5 separate regions of the Homo sapiens genome follow, and all the other regions are linked to region 2. The links come from fine-mapping of genetic effects on gene expression. A gene starts in region 2. Each other region holds a variant in brackets. All regions are shown on one strand. Distances are from middle to middle.

Region 1 (5,132 bases), 200 kb before region 2:
ATAATTATGAATATTTAAGAATAAAAACTGGCTGGGCACAGTGGCTCATGCCTGTAATCCCAGCAATTCTGTTACCAGTGGAAGGTGCCCAGATTCTTGGCTTCTTGAAAAAATTGGACAAAACACACAAATAAAGCAAGGAAAGAATGAAGCAAGAAAAGCAGAGATTTACTGAAAACGAAAGTACACTCCATAGTGTGGGAGCAGGCCAAGCATATGGGTTCAGGAAACTGGTTACCCAATTTTCTGGGATTTAAATACCCTCTAGAGGCTTCCCATTGGTTACTTGAGGTACACCCTATGTAAATGAAGAAGTGGCCTGTGATTAATCTGATTGGTTGCAGAAGGCAACCAATCAGAGGCTGAAGTGACGTTACAAAGTTAAACCAATCTGATTGGTTGCTTTCTGCAACCAATCAGAGATGGAAGTGAAGTTACAAAGTTAAACCCATGCAAACATCTGATTGGTTGCAGAAGGTGACCAATCAGAGGCTGAAGTGAAGTTACAAACTTATACTCCTATGCAAATGAAAACTTGGCCTGAGACCAGCCTGATTGGTTGCAGAAGAGGACAAATCACAGGTACTTTCAGTTTTTCATCTGCCAGGCAGAAAAGTGGGGGATGCAAAGGGAGTAGCCTCTGGTCCTTTTGTTACTTGGGTGTGGTAAGTTGGAGTTTTCCCTTTGACTTAGTTCTAGGAAGTCAGAATGAATCGGACTTATGTTCCCTGCTTTCAGACCCTGTAGTGTGTAGTGCCTCACTTTGGGAGGTCGAGGTGGGTAGATCACTTGAGGTCAGGAGTTTGAGACCAGCCTGGCCAACATGGCAAACTCCATCTCTACAAAAAGGCGGAGGTTGCAGTGAGCCGAGACTACACCACTGCGCTACAGCCTGGGTGACAGGGCAAGACTCCATCTCAAAAAAAAAAAAAAAAAAATGCTGGGCATGGTGGCTGTAATCCCAGCACTTTGGGAGGCCGAGGCGGGTGGATCACCTGAGGTCAGGAGTTCGACACCGGCCTGGCCAAATGACAAAACCCCATCTCTACTAAAAATGCAAAAATTAGCTGGGTGTGGTGGCACACGCCTGTAATCCCAGCTACTCAGGAGGCTGAGGCAAGAGAATCACTTGAACCCGGAGGCGGAGGTTGCAGTGAGCTGAGATGGTGCCACTGCACCCCAGTCTGGGTGACAGGGCAAGACTCCATCTCAAAAAAAAAAAAAAAAGAAAGAAATGAATAAAAACTTATGTAATTATTATTTCAAATGGTTAGTAAATTATTAGGATGTAAATACTGATTAAGTTGTTTGGACTTAACTACTTAATAAAGAGAATTATTACTTTGGTTTTTTTGTAGGAGGAGTGGGCATGGAGAAGTCACCATGAAAAAATTACTGAGACACTAAAGGTGCCTTTGAGCTGAGAAAGTTTGGGAACCTCTGTCTTACACAGTTGGATCCTAGATTGCTCTGTTTTCTCCGCTTTTTTTGGTTGGTTTGCTTCTTTGCTACATCTCATCAGTACTGTTACCAATGCGCCCTCTCTATACTCACAGAGTACTTACAAATGCAGGCACCTCATATATATTAACTTATTTAATCTTTATGACCAACTGTGCAAAATAGCTATTATTATTATTCCCATTTTACAGATGAGGAAATTGAAGCTAAAAGGTTAAATACTTCAAAGTCATACAGTTAGGAAGCAGCAGCACAGGATTCAAAGACTCAGTTTGACTCCAGAATCTGTGCTTTTAACTATCTTATTCTGGCCTCCCAACCCCCACCCATTAATTGTTAATTTTGATCTGCTATAGACATGGAAACTAAATATCCAAGCTTGTTGGAACTACATGTAAAGCAAGAGCTGAAAGTCACTACTGGGAGAAAAGTGCATGAACTCTACAGTATGTGCGGTCTGCACAAGACTGAGCAGCATAAAATGCTCAAAAATAACTCCTTCCGGCCAGGCGCGGTGGCTCACGCCTGTAATCCC[A/G]GCACTTTGGGAGGCCGAGGCGGGCAGATCACCTGAGGTCAGGAGTTCGAGACCAGCCTGGCTAACATGGTGGAACTCTGTTTCTATTAAAAATGCAAAAAATTAGCCAGGCGATTTGGTGTGTGCCTGTAATCCCAGATACTCAGGAGGCTGAAACAGGAGAATTGCTTGAACCCAGGAGGCTGAGGTTGCAGTGAGCTGAGATCATGCCATTGCACTCCAGCCTGGGCGACAAGAGTAAAACTCCGTCTCCAAAACAAAACAAAACAAAACAAAACATAAAAAACCTCCTTCCCTCTGACTTCCCCAGCTGCTGTAGCCAGCAAAGGTGGGGGTGGGAGTGGGTGGATATTTATTGAATTACACAGGATGTCTCAGGCTCTCCATGTTTCTCCGGGGGTCATGTTTCTCCGAGGGTCCATGTTAAACTCGGGTCTTCCAACCAGCAAGTTACTGTTCTATGGAAACAAAAAAGTTTAAAATGCTCCCTTCACTGTAAGAGAGGACAAAAGTGGACAGAAAATGCAATACAGATACATGACAAAAACAGGATTACCTAGAGGTAGGCAGGCCCATATTAATTCACAAGGAGAAATGTCATTTCAGGGGCAATAGGAAATAAGAAGCGGAAGTTTTGCAGACCTACTGGAGAAAGCAAACTTCCTCAGAAACAAGATTAAGACTGTACTTAAAGTGAACCTTGAGCATATACAACCATGGTGACTTAGATGAATATCCTGGACAGAAAAGAATCAGCAGAATTTGGATAGTGGAAGAAGGAAAGTTCAGCTCAGATCAGAGGAACTCGTATTGGTTAAGAGGTTTCCCTAACTTTCTAGGGAGGAGGAACTGAAAGTTTAAAACAGAACCTACTAAGCCACCTTTGGAGATCTTTATACAGATTTCTGCATAAATCAATCAATGGGTAGTAAACTGTATGCTTTCATTTCAGACTTGGGTTCAACCTTTCTCAGTGAAAGATTTTCTTTTTTTTTTTTTTGAGATGTAGTCTCACTCTGTCACCCAGGCTGGAGTGCCATGGCGCGATCTCAGCTCACTGCAACCTCTGCCTCCTGGGTTCAAGCGATTCTCCTGCCTCAGCCTCCCAAGTAGCTGGGATTACAGGTGCCTGCCACCACACCCGTGTAATTTTTCTATTTTTAGTAGAGATGGGGTTTCACCATGTTGTCCAGGCTGGTCTTGAACTCTTGACCTCAGATGATCTGCGCCCCTTGGCCTCCCAAAGTGCTGGGATTACAGGTGTGAGCCACTGCGCCTGGCCTCAGTGAAAGATTTTTCATAAAAAGCTCACAAAAACTTTTTGTGAAGAATCCCCCTATGTGGTGATTTCTAGATAGCAACCTGGATGGCCAGACCCCACCTGATGTGCAGTCAAAATTCTGATTCCCAGAATGGACAAAATGAGAGGAAATCCTTTTTTAGTCTGAGTGTAATATACAAACTTCCTGACAATGCTGAGGATGTTCAGAGTGCTTGCTTATGAAACTGCTTGAGAGCTGGATTCTGGATAGGTGGCATTTATAGCAACATTATGTCCCAGATTTCCGAGGACAGCCCAGATTTCAAATATCCTATCTTATTGTAATTATAAGTAGGCTTAGACTTCTGCTCTTATGTATCCTGATTTGGATAGAATGAGGAAAATATGGGCATAATATAAGTGATCCTTTCGTGGAGTGTATGATGAGGATAAATACCAGAAGGAAGTCATGGTGGGGTCTAGAAGTATTAACAGTGGTCTACTAAGATTATTCCTTGGTAACATGGTGTGAAAAAAAAAAAGCTATATTTGGCGTGAAACAGGCAGAAAGAAACTCCTGCAAATTCAGGGATGGCATGTGTGCCATTTGAAGAGAATAGAAGAGCCCAGGGGTGAGAAGTTTGGGGACAAAAAAAGAGGCTACTCCTAGGAAAGGTCAGCTGTGTCCCCTTGAGAGAGGAGGAAAGGACTAAAAGTCTGAGACAATCCGGCGGGGTCGGGGTGGGGGATTAGAAAAAAGTTACACAAACACTCAGCCAAGAGAGAGGGGAGAGAGAGAAAGGAAGAATATTAAAAGTAAAGCTTAGAAAGAAATTTACAAGATAGACTCAGGAGGGCACACTTAGCAAGAGGAGAGAGACAGTTGGGGGAGGAGAGGATACGAAGAGAGGCTAGGGAGAACAAGAAGAGGAGAGAGAGCGAATGAAGTGGGGGGAGCCGGAGCATGTATGGGCGAGAGAGGTGGTGAGAAGCTTGCAATTTCTCTTGAGATTGTGGATGTCTGGAGGGCCCCAGAGGAATGTTGGGAGAGATCTAAGGCTGGGATCTCTGGAACTAGACCAAAGACTCTACAAACAAGAAAAATTTTGAGCTGCAGCTCTAAATCTGCTAGAACTGGCGATCCCTTCAGGGATCCCTTAGAAGTCCTCCCTCCAAAGCTGTGAGTGATCTTATTCTCTGGGGAACTTTAGAGACACCCAGCAAGACAGTTTGTTGATGTTGTATAACCTTAAGAAAATTTCTCTTTAAAATATTGTTGGCTTGCAAGGTGGAGGTACTTAGCTGACTAAAAGGTATGTTTCTTGGGTTCTTGGGGATGTCAAGGGAAGTAAAGTGTGTGAACCCCTCCCCACAAAATCTGAGACTTTATGCTACCAGGCAATATTTAGTTTTCAAAGGAAAATACATGTGTGGATGCTATAGCCCTTGCCCAGAGATTCTGAGAAACTTATCGTTTTTAAAGCTTAAGGACATTTAGTTGGTTTTCTCTCCCACATAATAGGGTAAGTGGAATTTAGTACAAACCTCTTAAAAAGCAATTTGGCAGTGCATATCAGGAACCTTTTAAATTTTCACACTACTTGATATAGAAATCCCACATCTGAGAATTTTCTCTGAGGAAATAACCTTATAGTGCTTTATGCATTTATGCAAAAAGCATTATTTATAATAGAAGAAAATTAGAAGTAACTTAAATGCCCAACAATAAGGGACTGGTTAAGCAAACTCTGGCACCTTCTCTTAATGCAGTATTTTGCAGATGCTAAAACTGTATTTATAAAACATTCTTAAGATATGGGAAAATGCAGCAAAATATTAAGTAAAAAATTATAGACAAAATATGATCTCAACCAT
Region 2 (5,000 bases):
TTTTTCCCTTAAACTGGTAATAGATGTCCATGTAGTTAATTCACACAACAAGGAACTATTGAGTGCCTACTATGTACCATGCACTGCTGTAGACACGAGACACTTGGAGAAGCAATAAAAAAATTTCTCCTTCTGGAGCTTGCATTCTAGTAAATGTTAAATATTGTGTATCTTTGTTTATATCTTAAATGTTTCATTATAAAAATTTTTAAATAATTTTAAAAGGAATGAGAAATATGGATGTGAAATCTCAATTTAAATATGGTAATGGGCAGGGCATGGTGGCTCACGCCTGTAATCCCAGCACTTTGGGAGGCTGATGTGGGTTGATCCCCTGAGCTCAGGAGTTTGAGATCAGCCTGGGCACATAGCAAAAACATGTTTCTACAAAAAAAAAAAAAAAAATGCTGGGCATGGTGGCACGTGCCTGTGGTCCCAGCTACTCAAGAGGCTGAGGTGAGAGGATTGCTTGAGCCTGGGAGGTGCAGGTTGCAGTGAGTGGAGATCGCACCACTGCACTCTAGCCTGGGTGACAGAATGAGATCCTGTCTCAAAAAAAAAAAAAAGAAAAAAAGTAAGCAATCAGGAGATGGAAAAGCCCTTTGTCCAAGTAAACTGGGAGATCGCTAACTAGAAAACATAATTTAAAAGTTCAAGGCATAGGCAGGAGAGGAGATGGCAATGTTTTAGACAGAAGAAACTAATCCAGCAGTTTAACTTTAAAATACATTTTAAAACTTTTTTTCCTTTCTCTTGGGTTTCAAGATACAACCTTGAAGCAAACTGCAAAAGCCTTTTCCCTTAGCTGTAAAATAGACCCCATATCCCTCCCTTTCTCACTGTATATACTCCCTTCACATTTATCTTACTGTATGCTAGTATTTAATTATCTGCCTTCTGAGAAGTTCCAAGGGCTAATCTTGAGACAGACAAACCAAGCCTGGAGACACAGCTGCAAAATTCCAAAGATTACTTCAAGGTGGCTAGTCAACAGCGGGGCCATTGTGGAGATGAGACCAGCCCACGCTCCAGGTAGGCTGGGACCCAAGATAGCCACCAGAACAAGACACACAGACGTTGTACTCTGTACAATTCTTGCATGCTTCCCATATCAAATTTTCCTTTTAAGCCGTTCTCTTTCCCCCCAAAATCGAAGTGGTTACTTTAGATGGGAATCTGGCCACTTCCCCATTACTCCGCTCTCGGTTTTTTTGTTTGTTTTAGTTTGAGACAGGGTCTCACCTTGTCACCCGGGTTGGAGTGCAGTTGACAGCTCATTGCAGCTTGGACCTCCGGGGCCACAGCGATTCTCCTGCCTCGGCCTCTCAGTAGGTAGGACTACAGGCACGCACCACCACACCCGGCTAATATTTGTAATTTTTTGTAGAGACAGGGTTTCGCCATGTTGCCCAGGCTGGTCTCGGACTCCTGAGCTCAATCTCTTGTTAACTGGACTCTGCAAGCCGCAGGGAGAAACGTGCTTTCCTTAGAAAACTAGACTAGAGCATATTTACTGATGCTAAAGAGGTTGGTTTTGTATTTCCCTGGGCAAATAATTCTCTCTGAGCCTCCGTTTCTTCTAGAGATGATGTCCATCTTGCAGGATTGAGAACTGGTATAAGCTCCATTATGAAAAGTGACTGACACAAGCTTGGCAGAAAACGGGTATACTCCGTTTCTCTCCTTAATATCCTCCATGCCATTTGATTGCACAGCAGGGTAGGCGAGTGAGAACTTAGTGTTAGACTCTGTAAAGTATTTAAGATGTGCAGCGAGCTCTGCCTGTCTGAAGTTTTCAACGGACCGGAAAAGGATACTTTCAGGTGCTGAATTATTAAGAAACATATGGTGGGCCCCATTTCCATTTCCCCAGGCTTAAAGGACATGGACAAGCAGGTGAGCCCCGCCCCTGTCTCTCTTCCAGGGCGGAGCTTGGGTAGGCCCCGCCCTCTTGCTCGGTGGGGCGGGGCGAGGGCTGGAGGCGGGGTAGGTCCAGCGAGCGAGCGAGCGCCCAGCGCCTCGGGCTGAGTGAGGGAGGAGGTTCGGTGGAGAGGCTGCAAGTGGGCGAGGGCTGGGCGCAGCGACCTCATTGGAGCCGGCCGGTGGACGCCCCGGCGGAACCGCCCAGAGTTCCTGTCCTGCGCTACCTACCCGAACGCGCCTGCGCGCTGCGAACCCCGCCCCGGTGTCACCTGTTGGAGCCCCCCGCCCGCGTAGCCGTGCACATGCGCACTGCCGGCCGCCGGCCAGTGGGGTCACGTGTTGCGCGCGAGCCACCTCCCCTGCTGGCGCTTCCTGTCGCTACCGCTGCGGCCCAGGGCCCGCGGGAGCCCAGGGCGGTGCCGGGTGAGACAAGGCCGGGGTTTGGCTCGGATTCACCGCGAGGTATGCCGCGTCCCCGCCCCTCGGCGTGGGGAGTTCTGGGGACCGCGGGGGTAGATGGAGGCGGCGCGGGCGGGGCAGGGCGGCGCGTCCCGCAGCGCGGGAGTGGGGGTCCCGTGTCGCCTCCCCCTACGGACTCCGTTGCCCACCTTCCGTGAGGCCTGGCTGTGTCATCGGGGCCGCAGCCTTGGAGTGTCTGGCCTCGCTTTCACCTGAGCCGGAGTCACTCCCGAAATCTGACACTCAGAGTCCCCCGGAGCGCCCGCCAGCTCCTCCGCCCGCTCCCCGCCGCCTCCACGCCCGTCAGCTGGTCTCCCCGCCAGCGCTGTGGCGAGATGCGCCGGCTTCCTGCCTTTTCCCCCTACCTTCTGTGCACCTCCCCTTTGGTGCCAGAATGGGGTTTCTGAAACACCGATACGATCCCGCCACTTCTTTCCCAGCGCCCTCAGAATAATGCCCAAACGCTTTTCGGCTTAGAGGTTTTCATATTCTGCCGCTTGCTCACATTTCCACCTCGGCTTGTGCATTCAGGCCTCACCGCTTATGCCCCAGTCATACCAGGCCTCAGGTTCCATTGTACAGGCCAAGCTGCTCCCCACTTCAGAGCCGTCAAGTGTTCCCTCGTCTTGGAATCCTATTTCCCTCTTTCCCCCAACTTCTTTGCGTGACTCAGCTCAGGCGTCACCGCCTCGAAGGAGGAGCCTTTTCTCCCAGGGCTGAAGAAGGGGTCACCTCAGGGCACCCATGGCCCCTGGGGCAACCCCGTGTAGTCCACCTCCACCCTGTAAATGGTCATTGAAGGCTGAGACCGTCTTAGGTTCATTTCTGCGCTCCCAGTGCCCAGCGCAAGGTCTGACACAGGAGGTCCTGTGAATAACTGTGAGATCTTTATGGGAATCAGAATGCTGAGCCAGCTTTCTCCAGAGCTCAGCTGTGAGATGGAACTTTGATGACATGTCCTTGGATGATGAAAATGTTCTGTGTGTGTGCTGTCTGGTCATAGCCCCTCACCACATATGGCTGTTAAGCACTTGGAATGTGTCTGTTGTGGCTGATGGACTGGATTTTTAGCTTTATTTCATTTTAATTCATTGAAATTTAAAATTAAATAGCCAGCTGTGGCTTCCATAAGCACAGCTTTAGAGCCTTTCTGAATTCTACCCAGCCTTCCACCCACCCTGAACCTAGAGTACTTCCCTGAATGTGCTTTTTAAATTTGAGTCCGTTCAGAACATTCCTCAGTAAACCCATTAACAGGTGATCCCCATCCCTCCCATGGCCTGTGCTGCTTCAGTGCTTTAATTAAAGGTAACCCATACTTTGGTGTTCAGCATTGCCTTCTTTGGGAGTTTACTATCCACACCTTACCACGGGTAGCACTGTTGGGGGCGTGGCTTATGGGCTACTCCAGCCTGAATCTCTGTAACTCTTCCATAGGTATCTAGGCTGCCATGATGCCAGGGCCAAGACCTCGGAAGGGCCCTCAGGCCAGAGGCCAAGGGGTGGCCGCTGCCAAGCAGGTATGGAACTTAGCCTTCTAGGCTACTGGGTCGGTTTGGGGATGGGGGTCCCTAGACAACTTAGGCAAACTGGATCACATGTAGTTCCCCCATTAGTTCAGAGACTTGGAGCAGTGCCTCCTGGAGGTGGCAGAGCCCTTAGACACCCTCCTACTAGTCTCTTCCACATACAAGTGGGGAGAGGGTTCAGGAATCACCAAAGTTTAGGATGTTCTGATGGGACCTCAGTGCTCTCAAAGGTTCCTTAGATAGGGTCACAACTTTGCTTGTTAGCCAGGGATGCCAGGGCATGAGGGCTGTAGTCAGTGGGAGGACTTCACTGCCTAGGGACAGATGGCTGTGCCCCAAGTGGAAGAACAGGGGGGTCTCCTCTCCAATTTTCTTCCTTTATTTCTTCTGGGCCTACATCTTGAGACTTCTTAGTCCATTTTTACTGTCTTTAAAAAGGCAGGTAAGAAAGGAGGTGGGGTAAAGGGCATAGACTCAAGTCGCAAAGAGCTTGTTTTAAATTCTGATTGTCTCACAAGACTGTCTCAGTTTCATCTGAACATTGGGATAAAAACAGAATGTAAGCTGGGTGCCGTGGATCACGCCTGTAATCCCAGCACTTTGGGAGGCCGAGGTGGGTGGATCACCTGAGGTCAGGAGTTTGAGACCAGCCTGGCCAACATAGTGAAACCCCATCTCTACTAAAAATACAAAAATTAGCTGGGCGTGGTGGCATGTGCCTGTATTCCCAGCTTCTTGGGAGGCTGAGGCAGGAGAATCGCTTAGACCCGGGAGGCAGAGGTTGCAGTGAGCCAAGATAGTGCCACTGCACTCTAGCCTGGGCGACAGAGCCAGACTCTGTCTCAGAAAAAAAAAAAAAAAAGGATGTACCTCTACCTAGAGTAGTCATATTCATGGAAACAGAAGAATGGTGCTTACCAGAGGCTGGAAGGAGGGGAGGAAGGGGGGTTAATGTTTAATGGGTAGAAAGTTTGTTTCACAACATGAAAACAGTTCTGTGGATGGATGATGGCGATGGTAGCAGGATATTGTGAATGTCCTTATGCCATTGAACTCACCCTTAACAGTGGTTAAGATGGTAAATTTCAT
Region 3 (5,132 bases), 230 kb before region 2:
ACTGGCTGGTTTCTGCTGTACTCGCGGTTTCCTCTCTCGGCTTTGGATCACCCCCTCCCTCTGTCTCTGTACAGGGGGAGCTTCTTTCTTCTTCCTTGCCTGTTGGGAGAGAGAAAGAATAAAAACTAAAACTAGTCATACAAAACCTACAGTACTTTACTTTTTTTTTTTTGAGACGGCATCTCACTCTGTCGCTCAGGCTGGAGTGCAGTGGCACAATCTCAGCTCACTGCAACCTCTGCCTCCCGGGTTCAAGTGATTCTGTGCCTCCGCCTTCTGAGTACCTGGGATTACAGGCGGCCACCACCACGCACAGCTAAATTCTTTTGGTATTTTTAGTAGAGACGGGGTTTCATCATATTGGCTAGGCTGGTCTCAAACTCCTGGCCTCAAGTGATCCTTCTGCCTCGGCCTCCCAAACTGCTGGGATTACAGACGTGAGCCACCGCAACCGGCCAACATGTAGTACTTTACATGGCATTAAGCGGGGGAGAGGGTAGAGTAGTATGGTATAGAGTAAGGAGGGATTGTAACTTTAATTTGAATGATCAGGAAGCCTCACTGAGAAAATGGTATTTGGGCAAAGACCTAAAGAATGTCAGAGAGGAAAGTAGAAGAGCAGTCTCGGTAGAGGAAGCAGCAAGTACAAGGGCCTGGAGGCAGGAGCAGGCACGATGTGTTTGCTGAACAGCAAAGAGTCTAGTGTGGCTGGAGCAGAGTGAGCAAGGGGAAGAGTAACAGAAGATGACATCAGAGAGGTAAGGGATGGGTACACAGCTACTGTAGCATCTTACAAGCCATTGTGAAGAGTGTGGCTTTGATTCTGAATGGGATGGGAGGCCACTTAAGGGTTTTAATCAGGGAATGGACATTTCTAATTTATGTTTTACCAGAATCATTCTGACTGCAGTACTGAAATGAGAAGAGTAGTCAGGAGGCTATTGCAGTAATCCTCATAAGGGGACATGTGGGCAGTGGAGGTGGTGAGAAGTAGATTCTGAATATATTTTGAAAGCAGAGGCTGGGTGTGGTGGCTCATGCCTGTAATCCCAACAAGAATCTCTTGATGCTAGGAGTTCAAGACCAGCCTAGGCAATATAGTGAGACCCTGTTTCTACAAAAAAAAAAAAAAAAAGTAGCCTGGCACGGTAGTGTGCACCTGCAGTCCTAGCTACTTGGGAGGCTGAGGCAGGAGAGTCACTTGAGCCTAGGAATTTGAGGCTGCAGTGAGCATGATTACTTCACTGCACTCCATCCTGGGAGACAGAGTGAGACCCTGTCACTAAAAATAAAAATAAAGGTAGGGCGCAGTGGCTCACGCTTGTAATCCCAGCACTTTGGGAGACCGAGGTGGGCGGATCACCTGAGGTCAGGAGTTTGAGACCACCCTGGCCAACATGGCGAAACCCTATCTCTACTAAACATACAAAAAGATTCTGGTCATGGTGGCACATGCCTGTAATCCCAGCTACTCGAGAGGCTGAGGCAGGAGAATCGCTTGAACCTGGGTGGCGGAGGTTGCAGTGAGCCAAGATCATGCCACTGCACTCCAGCCTGGGCAACAGAGTGAGACCCTGTCTCAAAAATAAATAAATAAATAAATAAATAAAAATAAAGAAAGAAAGTAGAGGCAAAAGTATTTCCTGACAGGTGGAATATAGGGAATGAGAGAAAGACAAGAGTCACAGATGACTTTAAGGTTTTTGGCCAGAGCAATTGGAAAGATGGAGTTGCCATTAATTGGGATGAGGATGCTTGTGGGGGGAACTGGTTCAGGATGGAAAATCAAGAGCTCAGTTTTGGACATGTTAAGTTTGAGTTGCCTATTAGCAGTAGTAAACATTTACAAATTGGCTTTCCAGGAGAAAAAGGTGCGTGTGTGTGTGTGTGTGTGTGTGTGTGTGTGTATAATAAGTTTATTATAAGGTTTACTGATATAAATGATGCATAGCACACAATTCACAAATAATAAAATATATAGTACTTCTTATTGTAAATTCCATATGGCCACTTTATTCCCACAGAACGTTTTAATTGATGTTGGCCAGACTCTTATATCTATAGCCAACTAATGGTTGCAATTGCTGAACATGTATACTTCCAAGATTAATGTTGGTTGATATTTTTATTTCCATTAATAGTAAGATGAAAGTGAAACAGTAGAGATATATGCCAGAACAAGGATAAAGCCAATAACACGAAGGCTTTCTTTGTGGCATCTGAGAGTAGTTTCCAATACCAGAAGAATATTTACACTAATTTTTGTGTTATTCACAGACTAATGGCTATAGACATAATATACTCTCAATTTAATCTGTATTATTAACATTTTTTCCATCACTTTCTTAAGTCTAGGCAATAAACAAAACAATAAATCAACCCCTGAGAGCCACATTTGCTAATGTGTGGTGTAATACTCCCACCCTGGTTGATTTTGAGCTTCCAACATGATTTTACTGAATGTGGAGTTAGGAAGAGATGTGAGAATAGCATACCATTATGCAGTATTTCCACAATACAGATAGAATAGACATCAATAAACTTGAGAGCACAGAAAATCATAAAATAGAGTAAAACAATTAGAAAGTGATAAGTTTTTAATATTACCTTTCTTTTTAACATAATTTCTTTAATTTTAAAAATGTAATTTAATTTTTAGGAATGGCTGTGGTTAGCAAGAGGCTGGCAAAAGTCCTGGAAACATAACAATTGACTCTAGGAGCTGGTTCCAGACACCATTCCTATCTCTGATACGGTTGGATATATGAGTCAGGAATTGGAAGAGATCTAAGGCAAGATATAAATTTGGGAGTGGGCCGGGCACGGTGGCTCACACCTGTAATCCCAGCACTTTGGGAGGCTGAGGCAGGTGGATCATCTGAGGTCAGGAGTTTGAGACCAGCCTGGCCAACATGGCGAAACACTGTCTCTACTAAAAAATACAAAAATTAGCAGGGCGTGGTGGCAGGCACCTGTAATCCCAGCTACTCAAGAGGCTGAGGCAGAAGAATCACTTGAGCCTGAGAGGC[G/A]GAGGTTGCAGTGAGCTGAGATCGTGCTATTGCACTCCAGCCTGGGTGACAGAGTGAGACTCTGTCTCAAAAATAAATAAATAAATAAATAAATTTGGGAGTGGACAGCACACAGAATATTTAAAACCATGGTACTGGATGATGATGGTGAGTTGGAATAGAGAGAAAAGAGAACCAAGGACAGCCCTTGGGACTCCAGCATTCAGCTGGAGATGAAGACATGAGGGAGCCAGAAAAAGACACTGAAAAAGAGTAGCCACAGGAAGGACCAAAAACCTAAAAGAGTGCGATGTCATGGAAGCTAAGTGACAGATTTGTTCCAGAATGAAGAGAGGGATTAACTGGTAAAATGCTGTTGATAAATCTAGGAAGATTAGGACTGAGACCTGAACATGGGATTTAGCAATTTATCCTTCAACCAATAAAGGGAATTAAACAGACAAAATCACATTTCCTTGCCTCTTTGCCATTCCTCATCTGCTCCCCCTGCCTGTATTGTTTTCCCGTCCTTGTGCTTACAGCAAGTTCCTATAGGGCTTCCAGGTTTTATTAATCGGGGCCTCAATAGGAAACAGATGAGATACTCAGATTAGGGGAATTTGAGGAAGGCTCATTTACACAGGGACTAATTTCCATTGTGTGGGTGGGGTGTAGGAGAAGACAGGGATCGTTCAGGAACCTATCTGAACTGTTAACATCTCTTGACCTGAATGGATGGGAAGAGGGAGGAGAGATTATGGAAGCTGGAAAAAGAGTCCTATACACCTATACACCAAGCCATCTTGAAAGGGGCAGTTCCCTTGTTTGTTTGTTTGTTTTTTTGAGACAGAGTCTTCGTCACCCAGGCTGGAGTGCAGTGGCGCGAGCTCAGCTCACTGCAACTCCGCCTCCTGGGTTCAAGTGATTTTTGTGCCTCAGCCTCCCTGAGGCTGTTAATTTCAAAGGAGAATCACAGCCAGTCCAAGGTAAACTTACAGGGAAGGAGCCAGGGAGTTAATTCATCTCCTCTTTCTCACCAGTCTCCTTCGGGGATATTGGCCGGTACCTGAGTGGAAGCCAGGGAGCAAAGGAGCCCATCAATGTCAGCTGTACAGGTTCAGTGTACCAAGAAGACAATGGGGGTGGACAGTGGATCCAAAGAGTCAGACAGAAGGTGTGCAGCACACAAACCCAACTCAGAAAACAGGTTTTCTCTGAGGCTTTTCTCAACACTTTTATTTAGGTGGGTAGTTGCCCCCATTCTATGCTTTCCTTTTCTTGTTTTTTTATTTTTTAGAGACGGCGTTTCACTCTGTCACCCAGGCTGTAGTGCAGTAGTGTGATCATAGCTCACTGCTGCCATCAACTCCTGGGCTCAAGCAATCTTCCTGCTACAGCTTCCCGAGTAGCTGGAACTACAGGAATGGGCTACCACACCCAGCTAATTTTTTTTCTATATTTTCAGAGGTTGGGGGTGGGGGTCTCACTATGTTGTCCAGGCTGGTCTTGAACTCCTGGCCTATCTCGGCCTCCTAAATAACTGAGATTAGATTACAGGCATCAGCCATGGAGCCCAATTTGTGCTTTCATGTAATGTAGCACTTATCATGCTGTATTGCAATGATCCACAATACTGGCTGCACCTTAGAATCACCTGGGGAGCTTTTAAAAAACACTAATGTCCAGGCTCCACCCTAGACCAACTGAATCAGGAAGTCTGGGGATAGGGTCCCAGCACTATGTATTTTAAAAATACCCCAGCTGATTTTAAGGTGCAGTCAGGATTGACAATCACTGTTGTGATGTCATTGCCTATCTACTTGTATGTTACCTTGAGGAATTTGTAGCTCTTTGAGGGCAGGACCGTGTTTGATTCAAACCTGTCACTAACCTGCAGCATGGGACCTTGTACAGGGCAGATGCTCAGGACATGAAAGTTCACATTAAAGAGTATTACGACTTTAATTTTTGTGTAATTTTGTTATGATTGTGGTATGTATCTCATCTAGGGCATTGTTTTTCAAACTGAGAGTTGCAACCCATTAGTAAGTTACAGAATCAACTTACTAGCTCAGACTAGCATGGAAAAAAAATTGAATAGAAAAAGTCAGAGAATGTCCTATA
Region 4 (5,132 bases), 210 kb after region 2:
AGAATCAAAATGCAGGCCCCTAGAGTTCTGCAGGAAGGCCATGCTATTAGAAAAACAGCTCCTGTGGCCGGGCGTGGTGGCTCACGCCTGTAATCCCAGCACTTTGGGAGGCCGAGGCGGGTGGACCACGAGGTCAGGAGATCGAGACCATCCTGGCTAACACAGTGAAACCCCGTCTCTACTAAAAATACAAAAAATTAGCTGGGCGAGGTGGTGGGCGCCTGTAGTCCCAGCTACTCGGGAGGCTGAGGCAGGAGAATGGCATGAACCCCGGGGGGCGGAGCCTGCAGTGAGCCGAAATCGCGCCACTGCACTCCAGCCTGGGCGACAGCGAGACTCCGTCTCAAAAAAAAAAAAAAAAAAAGAAAAAAAAGAAAAACAGCTCCTGGTGTGCAACTGTGTCCTATTAAGAGATACAATGCTTCATCACTGGGCACCATGTGTCCAGACTTTCCATAATGATCTGCATTCACTAGGACTCGCCAGGTCATAAAGCCAGGTGAGCATAGCAGCAATCCATTATAAGATAGGAATGGCACATCAAGGATCAAAATGAAACAGAACCAAAAGGCACAAGAAGACTGCTATAAGCAGGCAGCCAAGACTTCCCTGGCACTCACCATACTAGCACCATTTCCTCAGCTCACATCTATAGCTATTTGGGGTATCCTATAAGACCAACTTAAGAAGGAGAAAAAAGCCAAAGTTTTGCTTATAAGTAGGTCAGCTCAGTATGTGAATGCAAGCTGAAAAAAACAACGGAGTTCATTATAGCCACACTTAGGGGTGACCTTGACAATGAAAAGGGAAAATCTTCTTAACAGACAGAGCTTTGAGTCGTGCACCTGGTTATGAATTTTATGCAGAAAGAAAAGTGGCCTGGGGTGAGAATATATAGACTCACGGGCAATGGCAAGTAGACTGGCCAACTGGTTAGAGGCCTTTAAGGAGAAGGACAAAGGCAAGGGGTATGGGTGGAGGGAAATGAATGAATATATGGGAGTGGGTGGAAAGTATGAAAATCTTTGTTTCATGTGTTAATGCCCACCAGAAAGTATCCAATACAGAAGAGCCAATGAACAGCCAAGGAGACAAAATGACTCAACTAGCTGACATCGGTCACCCAGAAGTGGCAAGATGGGGACATAAATGGAGAGGTCACTGTGGCAGAAATAGAGATGGAAGCAGAGAAGGAGACATGGACTCCCATTTACCAAGGCCAACTCTGAACATCCAACCTATGAGCAACAAAGACCAACACCAAGCCCCCATATAGCATTATGCCTCAGGCAGACCAACAGACTATTAAGTGGTAAGCTGACTACACTGGGCCTCTTCCATCTTGGATGGGCCAGTGATTGATCTTCACAGGATTAGACATTTATTCCAGGTATGGGTTTGCCTTTCCTGTCCATAGAGACCTAGCCAGTACCACTAAATATAGACTTATACAGCACTTAATCAACAGACATGGAATCCAGCCAAGGGAATCACTTCACAGTGAAAGATTTGTGGCAGTAGGCCCATAACCATAAGCTCCAGTAGTTATATCCATAACAGCTCCATACAAAAGGACCAGTCTTAGAGAGTATTGGAATGGCCTGCTGCAGGCACAGCTAATGTACTAGCTCAGAGACAAAAATGGTGTGCTATCCTCTTGTATGCAGTACATGCACTGATTTAGAGCTAGGTTCCCAGTAAGAAGAATACATGGGTCTGAGAACCAAGAAGTGGAAAGGGAAATAGCCCCTACTCGCCATCATTCCCAATGATCTACTTTGTGCTTCCCATCTCTGCAATGTGGGGCTCTACGGAGTTAGAAGTCCTGGCACCCAAAGCGGGCACACTTTTGCCAAGAGACACATGAAAGGTCACAGTGAACTACAATTTACAGCTGCAGCCTGAATACTGAGTATTCCTTGTGTCCAAGGACTAGAAAGCAGTAAGAGGAATGCCCATCTTGGCAAGATTAATTAACCCTCATCCTCAGGAGGAAGTAGGGCTGCCGTTACACAAAGGGAACAAGAAAGAATATGTGTGGGACTCAGATGATTCCCTAGGATACCACTTAATACTCCCTGCCCAGTAGTGACTATGAATGGGCAAATGCAACCACTCCAGTCTCAGACCCCTCAGAAATGAGGGTTTGGGTCAAACCACTAGGTAAACAACCAACACCAGCAGAAATGATAGCTGA[G/A]GGCAAGGGCAATTTAGACTACATAGTGGAGATGGCTCTAGAACTTTGTGGCTCTGAGACCAGCTACAGTGATGAGCCTGAGGCCTGTCTCACTAATCTCTTTCTACATTTCCTCCCTTGGAGGAGCTGCTCTCAGAAACTGTGAAGATATGGATCTGTGCATCATGAGGAATGGACTGTAGCAATCACTTGGATCTTCCTTCAAAAAAGAATTGCCATTCAGGTCCAAGGAGTTTGGTTAGCTAACAGCCTCCAGCTGCAGCATGTTCAGAATTCATCTCAGCTTCCCAGTCATGACCATGCTCTCCTTGGGCAGCTCTAGCCAGTGACTAAACATGGTGGGTGTACTAAAATCTGGCCATTTCTGCCCATGCAGGCCTCCTCTAACAGGCAATATGTGCTCTGAAGTTCCCTGTTAGGTTGACTGAGATTTTTTCAGATCTGCATCACAGACTGAGGCTCTCCCTAGGCAATTCTGCTTTCTCCCCATTTCCTTTCATAGGCATTCCATCCCATAAAACCTCTTGTGCTACTACATCCATTTCAACGTCTGCTTCCCAGCGGACCTGAACCAATACACTATGTACTTAGCTCTTTACATGTATCTGTTTATTTAACCCACTGATGTATTATTGTTAGTCCCATTTTACAGGTGAGAAAACTGAAGCACAAAGAAGTTATTAACTTGCCCAAGATCACAAAGTGAAAGGAGAATTAAATTTGAACCCAGACAGTTTGACTCTAGAGCCTGTAATTTAATCACTATGCTGGGAGAGACAGGATACTGTCTTGTCATCTTTAGATATTAAGAGTGATTATTTATTCTGTGTAATTTTAAAGAGTAAAAGAGCAAAAGGATATATACTAGAAAAAAAGCTAGATTTTTGGCTGAATATAAAAAGAAATAATACTGCTAATATTCTAATAACGTGCAGAATGAGCACCTTCAGGAAGTAATCAGGGCCTATCATCTGAGAGTTCAAAGTCTCGGATACGGTGAGGGTGAGACTTTAAAAAACAGGTAAAAGTTGACCTACATCAGTAAAGGGTATTAATTACTAAGGCCTACGTGGAAAAAAGGGGTTCCACAACCAAATAAGTTTGGGTAATATAGCCAGGCACACTGGCTCATGCCTGTAATCCCAGTACTTTAGGAGGCTGAGGCAGGTGGATCATCTGAGGTCAGGAGTTCGAGATCAGCCTGGCCAACATGGTGAAATCCCATCTCTACTAAAAATACAAAAATTAGCCAGACATGGTGGTGCATGCCTGTAATCCCAGCTAATCAGGAGGCTGAGGCAGGAGAATTATTTGAACCTGGAAGGCGGAGGTTGCAGTTAACCAAGATGGTGCCACTGCACTCCAGCCTGGGTAACAAGAGCAAAACTCCATCTCAAAAAAAAAATTGGGGTAATACATAGCTGAACAAAGTTAAACAAGTTTCTTCCACTCCTCAGTCTTTAGAATACTAACGTGCATTTGCAAACTTCTACCTAAGGGATATATAGTAAGCTGAAAACCCAAACTTATTTGACTAAAGAACATCTCCTTGCTCCTAGGGAACATACTTTAGAAATCCTGGATGGGCTCAGAGAGGTGGCTCATGTCTCTAATCCCAGCACTTTGGGAGGCCGAGGCGGGTGGATCACTTGAGGTCAGGAGTTCCAGACCAGCCTGACCAACATGGTGAAACCTTGTCTCTACTAAAAATACAAAAAATTAGCCAGGTGTAGTGGTGGGTGCCTGTAGTCCCAGCTACTCGGGAGGCTGAGGCAGGAGAATTGCTTGAACCCGGGAGGCAGAGGTTGCAGTGAGCCGAGACCACACCACTGCACTCCAGCCTGGATGACAGAGCGAGACCCCATCTCAAAAAAAAAAAAAGAAAAAACACACATACACACACACATAGACACAGGACAAGATTCACAGGATGAAAAAAGAGTGTGGACTTTCTAGTCAGAGATATATGAGCTTGATATATAAGTTTGAATCATCAATGTGGGCTTAAGCTTAGGAAAATCAATAAAACTCTCCAAGCCTCAGTTCCCTCAGCTGTAAAATGCATAATAATATAATGACCTTATAATATCCTTAGTAAGAGTTACAAATAACATATGTGAAACACTTACCAGAAAGATGGCACACTACAGGGAAAGCTTTTATATTCCACAAAAAGTAATACAAGGTAAAAGAATCAAGGAAAACTCCATAAACCTGGAATCTTGGAAGAACAGGATGCAAAAACAGGAGGGAGGAATGATCAGCTTGGAACCAAATCATGAAGGCTGTATGCCAGGTTAAAGAATCTCAACCTTGCTTTTTAAACACTGAGCAGAAATTTCCATGAGTGACCTCACAATAACTTCAAAAATAATTTACCTCGGCTACTACTACTAAAAAAAAAAAAAAAAAGACAATTATCACCAGAATCACAAAAAGGCCTACATGATGTACTGTGAAGTTCAAGTTTCAAACTGGCAGTGTTTTATTTTAATTACCTTTTAGGGACTGTTTCTCCTGCTCAACTGAAAATGAAAAATGGAGATTAAAGTTTGTATAAATCCTGACAGGGTGTTTTTACAAAATTTTGACATTGCTTGTTCTATCTTTTCTTCTTTTTTTTTTTTTTTAAGACAGTATGTTCCCCTGTTGCCCAGGCTGGCGTGCAGTGGCGTGATCTCGGCTCACTGCACCTCCCCTCCGGGTTCCCAGGTTCAAGCGATTCTCCTGCCTCAGCCTCCTGAGTAACTGAGATTACAGGGGCCCAACGCCACGCCCAGCCAATTTTTGTATTTTTAGTAGAGACAGGGTTTCACAATGTTGGCCAGGCTGATCTTGAATTCCTGACCTCAAGCGATCCATCCACCTCGGCCTCCCAAAGCGTTGGGATTACAGGCATGAGCCACCGTGCCTGGCCCTATATATCTCATCTATC
Region 5 (5,132 bases), 110 kb after region 2:
TGAGCCAGGTTAGTCAGTGCTTCTCAACAGGGGCACTCTTGGCATTTTAGGTGGGCCAGTTCTTCATAGGACAGTACTGTCCTGGGCATAGCAAGATGTTTAGCAGTCTTGGTATGCACAGGTTGCTAAATGCCAGTAGCAACCTCAGTCATTCTGACAACTAAAAATACCCCACTATATTCCATATACCATCTAAGTACCTTCCCCAGTTCTCTAAGCTACAGGCTTAGAGTAAAAAAGTAAAGTCAGTTCTAAAAATTAAGAAAATTACATATTTGCACACCTGAACTTAAATTATACTGCTGAAATATCTTACCATATGCCATATATCTTTATCACAACACAATCTACTGCACTGATTGAACTTATTCTCCATTTCCCCACACTAGAATGTAAACTCCATGGAATAATGAGCTAAATTATTTTTAATACTGGTATCTTCAATATTGTGTCTGAAACATAGTACTCAGTAAATATTTGCTTATTGCTTCCTTGAAAAGTAAAGTTATTGCATAAATAAATGTATGACTGGGACTAGGTGCAGTGGCTCATGTGTGTAATCCCAGCACTTTGGGAGGCCAAGGCAGGTGGATCACCTGAGGTCAGGAGTTTGAGACCAGCCTGGTGAAATATGGTGAAACCCTATCTCTACTAAAAATACAAAAATTAGCCAGGAGTGGTGGCAGGCGCCTATAATCCCAGCTACTCAGGAGGCTGAGGCAGGAGAACCCAAGAGGTGGAGGTTGCAGTGAGCAGAGATCGCGCCACCGCATTCCAGCCTGGGAGACAAGAGCGAAACCCCGTCTCAAAAAATAAATAAATACATAAATACATAAATGTATGAATGGAGAAACAAACATTAATGTAAACTTTTTGGGGAAGGACTATATGATTCATATCCAAATTCAGAAAATAATCTAGAGCCATTCAACTTTTGCAACAACACATTTTAATCTGTTTATAAGAATGACCTCAAGATTTTTATGCCTAATGGTTACAGCTGACATCATATGGCAGGATCCGTATGACCTGCCTAAGCATAAAGAGACAAAGTAAGGTAATTTATAATATATATTCTATACGATGTTCCAGCTAAGTACTGGTTAAAAGGTTCCATTTGTGTGTTTATATGTAATTTTTTTAAATGTGGCACTTCTGTGTTCCTATTTCAACTTGATTATTCTCTAGTCAGATGACCTTATGGGAATAATTTAAACTCTCTAGGTCTTAGTTTTTCTCACATGTAAAATAGAAATGCTAATACAGTATTTCCTTCATATGGCTTTTATGAAGATTAAATGAAATTATATGTATAAAATGTAGCATATAATAGGTTCTAAATGTATGTTGGTACCTTTCTTATTTCCCTTTCCTTTCCTTTTAAAATTTCCCACTACAGGCTTTCCACATAACAAATCCTATTGCTAAATCTGTGAACATGCTTTATATTCAAAGTACCACTTTGTGCCTATTTATACCCTCTTACAGTGTGAATAACACTTATTCCTTTGCAATTCTTGAAAATTCAAATCATCAAATGCTCACTTATTTCTTTCCAAATTAGAAAATGCAAAAAATGATGTCCCAGGTCTTCAAAAAGCCCTATAATTATGACAAAAATAACTGTGATGTGAGAATAATAAAAACAGGAGAGGAGAGTGCATAGAACTGACCAGTGTCCAGCTGTTCACAAAGACCAGTGAAAGTAACAACTTATAAAAATTGTCAAATGCAGGAGTACTTTATCCCTCCACTTATTAGCACATAGCAAAAATCAGTATCATAAGATCTAAAGCAGTTCAAACAAATCCAGACCCTTGCCTCTGTCTAAACACCTGTTTAAACTTCACTGTTATTAATAGAAAACAATAATAATTATCAGAGTCATTTTAAGTGTCCATTACAGAAAGGGTTAAAAGAGATCTCTAATTCAGACTTTCAATATTATATCCAACTGAGGCTGTACCAGCCCAGCCAACATGGTGAAACCCCATCTCTACTAAAAATATACAAATCTGCTGAGCGTGGTGGCACATGCCTGTAATCCCAGCTACTTGAGAGGCTGAGGCAAGGAAAATTGCTTAAACCTGGGAAGGGAAGCAGAGGTTGCAGTGAGCTGAGGTTGTGCCACTGCACTCCAGCCTGAGCGACAAGAGCAAAACTGTCTCAAAAAAGAAAAAGAAAAAAAAAAGAGCCGGGCATGGTGGCTCATGCCTGTAATCCCAGCACTTTGGGAGGCTGATGTGGACAGATCACAAGGTCAGGAGTTCAAGACCAGCCTGACCAACATGGTGAAACCCCGTCTCTACTAAAAATACAAAAATTAGCTAGGCGTGGTGGTGGCACACGCCTGTTATCTCAGCTACTTGGGAGGCTGAGGCAGGAGAATCACTTGAACCCAGGAGGTGGAGACTGCAGTGAGCTGAGATCGCGCCATTGCACTCCAGCCTGGAAGACAGAGCGAGACTCCATCTGAAAGAAAGAAAAGAAAGAAAGAGAGAGAGAGAGAGAGAGAAAGAAAGAAAGACAGAAAGAAAGAAAGGAAAGAAGGAAGGAAGGAAGGAAGGAA[G/A]GAAGGAAAGAAAGAAAGAAAGAAAAGAAAAGAAAAGAAAAGAAAAGAAAAGAAAAGAAAAGAAAAGAAAAGAAAAGAAAAGAAAAGAAAAAAGCAAAATAGCTCAAACTCAATGAATTAAAAAAAATTTTTTTTGAGTCAGAGTCTCTCTCTGTTACCCAGACTAGAGTGCAGTGATGCAATCTCGGCTCACTGCGACCTCCCAAGTAACTGAGACTACAGGTACGCGCCGCAATACCCAGCTAATTTTAGTATTTTTAATAAAGATGGAGTTTTGCCACGTTGCCCAAGCTAGTCTTGAACTCCTGACCTCAGGTGATTCACCTGCCTCGGCCTCCCAAAGTGCTGGGATTACAGGCATGAGCCACTGCATCCAGCCTAAAATTACTTTTTTTTTTTTTTTTTTGAGATGGTTTTGCTCTTGTTGCCCAGGCTGGAGTGCAATGGTGCGATCTCGGCTCACCGCAACCGCCGCCTCCCAGGTTCAAGCGATTCTCCTGCCTCAGCCCCCTGAGTAGCCGGGACTACAGGCATGTGCCACCATGCCCGGCTAATTTTGTATTTTTAGTAGAGTCAGGGTTTCTCCATAGGTCGGTCAGGCTGGTCTTGAACTCCCGACCTCTGGTGATCCGCCCGCCTCAGCCTCCCATAGTGCTGGGATTACAGGCATGACCCACCGTGCCTGGCTCTAAAATTACTTTTTAAAAATATGTTTCCTTCAGACATATCTGTTTTTATGCCCAAGAATAATTTAATTGTAAACAAAGCATAAGCTTGCATTCTGTTCTATTCATATGTCATCATAAGCATTTTCTACACTGCCTTGTAATAATTTTTAATGGCTGAAGCAAATATATGTATTGTACTTAACTTACCATTAACCTTTTTTTTTTTTTTTTGAGACATGGTCTCGTTTATCACCCAGGCTGAAGTGTACTGGCACAATCATGGCTCACTGCAGCCTCGACCTCCTGGGTTCAAGTGATCCTCCCAACTCAGCCTCCCAAGTAGCTGGGACTACAGACATGCCCTACCATATCCAGCTATTTTTTAATTTTTAGCAGAGATATTATGTTGCCCAGGCTGGTCTCGAACTCCTAAGCTCAAGGAATCCTTCCACCTCAGCCTCCCAAGTAGCTAGGACTACAGGCATGTACCACCACATCCCGCCATTTTTTAATTTTTAGTAGAGATGAGGTCTCACTGCGTTACCTGGGCTGGTCTCGAACTCCTGAGCTCAAGTGATCCTCTCACCTTGGCCTCCCAAAGGGCTGGGATTACAGGAATGAGCCACCACACCTGGCCCATTATCCAATTTTGGACACAAATTACTTTAAATGTATTTGCTATTTAGTAACACTAAAATACACATCTTTTTGTTTACTGCACTTGTTTTAAGAATTATTTACTCAAAAAAGGAATCATTAGCTCAAAAAATTGGAACATACGTCCCCTTTTGTTTGGCAGAGATGAGGTCTTGCCATGTTGCCCACACTGCTCTTGAACTCCTGGGCTCAAGCGATCTGCCTGCCTCGGCCTCCCAGAGTGCTAGGATTTACAGGTGTGAGCCACCACGCCCAGCCACACATATGGCTTTTTTTTTTTTTTTTTAGTAATGTAAAATATGTGAGCTTTATTACATGTTAAAGATAATATGACCCAAATTTATCAAAATTACAATAAAATATTTTTAAATATATATAAAGTTGCAAATAACTGATGTTTTTTTCAATAAAGGTAACTGATATACTATTTAAAGACAGGATAAAACAAAGATACGTTTAATGACTTCCATATCATTTTAAAGTCACCTTATTGAACAATACATCATGAAATCTATAGTTGTACATCTAGGAAATTTACCAATGGCGCTCTCTTCTACCAGTGTGTATATTTTAATTTGTCTCATATGGGTGGGTGTCTTTTCCATTTTGATGACTGGCTAGAACAGCAATCTGTATCATTAACGTCCAAGTTGGCTTCCTATGATTATCAGTTAAGGGAATATGAATCCAGCCACTTGGTTCCACCAATTCAAGTTGCCGAATTTCTTGAAGGTTGTGAAAATTATTTCCTACTTTGGCTGAAATCTTGCTTGGAGTATAGCTTTCATCAGATTTGTAGTCTGCATAAATATATAATGTCTTAACTGTTGTTTTTCTTCTGAATTGGATGTTCACTAAATGAGGCTGGGAGCCATCTGATTGCCAATAAGTTTCTAGATTGTCATCTCGTAACTGATCCACTCCAAATCCTGGTTTGCAAGATGAGAGTGACCAAACAGCTTGTGACCCAATTTCCCGTACTGTTCCAGTCTTTTCCAACTGCTCAGGGTCAGTACCAGGAGGTGCCTTGTTTGGTGTGGTCATTTTTTAAGTATTCTGGCTGCTTGCCAAAACTCAGGTTCTCAGGATCTCCAGCAGCTCTGTGCCACTCCCACTCGGCTTCCTAGGACAGCCTGGGTTCCCCAGCGACCCACGTGTGGCTTTTTAAATGTGTAAATATGCCAGTGTCAATTTCACTATCTATCATACTATCAACATTTTCTATTTTTTGTTATATA

Alleles and levels. Positions count from the first base shown, and alleles are read on the strand shown. Sizes are in standard deviations (SD) of each study's normalised expression. Not every link is listed here.
For the expression in prefrontal cortex of the gene that starts at base 2,249 in region 2, allele A in region 5 goes with a lower level than allele G (large effect, 1.0 SD a copy in BrainSeq).

The links.
Region 1: its variant is fine-mapped to the expression of CC2D1B in subcutaneous fat (GTEx, PIP 0.93).
Region 3: its variant is fine-mapped to the expression of CC2D1B in spleen (GTEx, PIP above 0.99).
Region 4: its variant is fine-mapped to the expression of CC2D1B in blood mononuclear cells (TOPMed, PIP above 0.99).
Region 5: its variant is fine-mapped to the expression of CC2D1B in prefrontal cortex (BrainSeq, PIP 0.92).

The regions. Positions count from the first base shown.
Region 1 is chr1:52,567,257-52,572,388 of GRCh38, reverse strand. No RefSeq gene overlaps it. Among named protein-coding and RNA genes, the nearest start is that of TUT4, 17 kb to the right of the region's middle. RefSeq lists an enhancer at 592-1,092. The variant A/G (reference allele first, on the strand shown) is at 1,997.
Region 2 is chr1:52,363,454-52,368,453 of GRCh38, reverse strand. CC2D1B (coiled-coil and C2 domain containing 1B) reads left to right here and starts at 2,249. Exons shown (of 25, transcript NM_001330585.2): 1 at 2,249-2,385; 2 at 3,820-3,902. The coding sequence starts at 3,834. RefSeq lists an enhancer at 8-57 and silencers at 1,870-2,499, 2,540-2,649.
Region 3 is chr1:52,593,716-52,598,847 of GRCh38, reverse strand. No RefSeq gene overlaps it. Among named protein-coding and RNA genes, the nearest start is that of GPX7, 6.1 kb to the left of the region's middle. The variant G/A (reference allele first, on the strand shown) is at 3,030.
Region 4 is chr1:52,150,467-52,155,598 of GRCh38, reverse strand. The region is part of intron 1 of ZFYVE9 (zinc finger FYVE-type containing 9); the gene reads right to left. The region is part of intron 4 of LOC107984956 (collagen alpha-2(I) chain-like); the gene reads right to left. Among named protein-coding and RNA genes, the nearest start is that of ZFYVE9, 11 kb to the right of the region's middle. The variant G/A (reference allele first, on the strand shown) is at 2,198.
Region 5 is chr1:52,253,427-52,258,558 of GRCh38, reverse strand. The region is part of intron 4 of ZFYVE9 (zinc finger FYVE-type containing 9); the gene reads right to left. It also overlaps the pseudogene ANAPC10P1. Among named protein-coding and RNA genes, the nearest start is that of CC2D1B, 110 kb to the left of the region's middle. The variant G/A (reference allele first, on the strand shown) is at 2,570.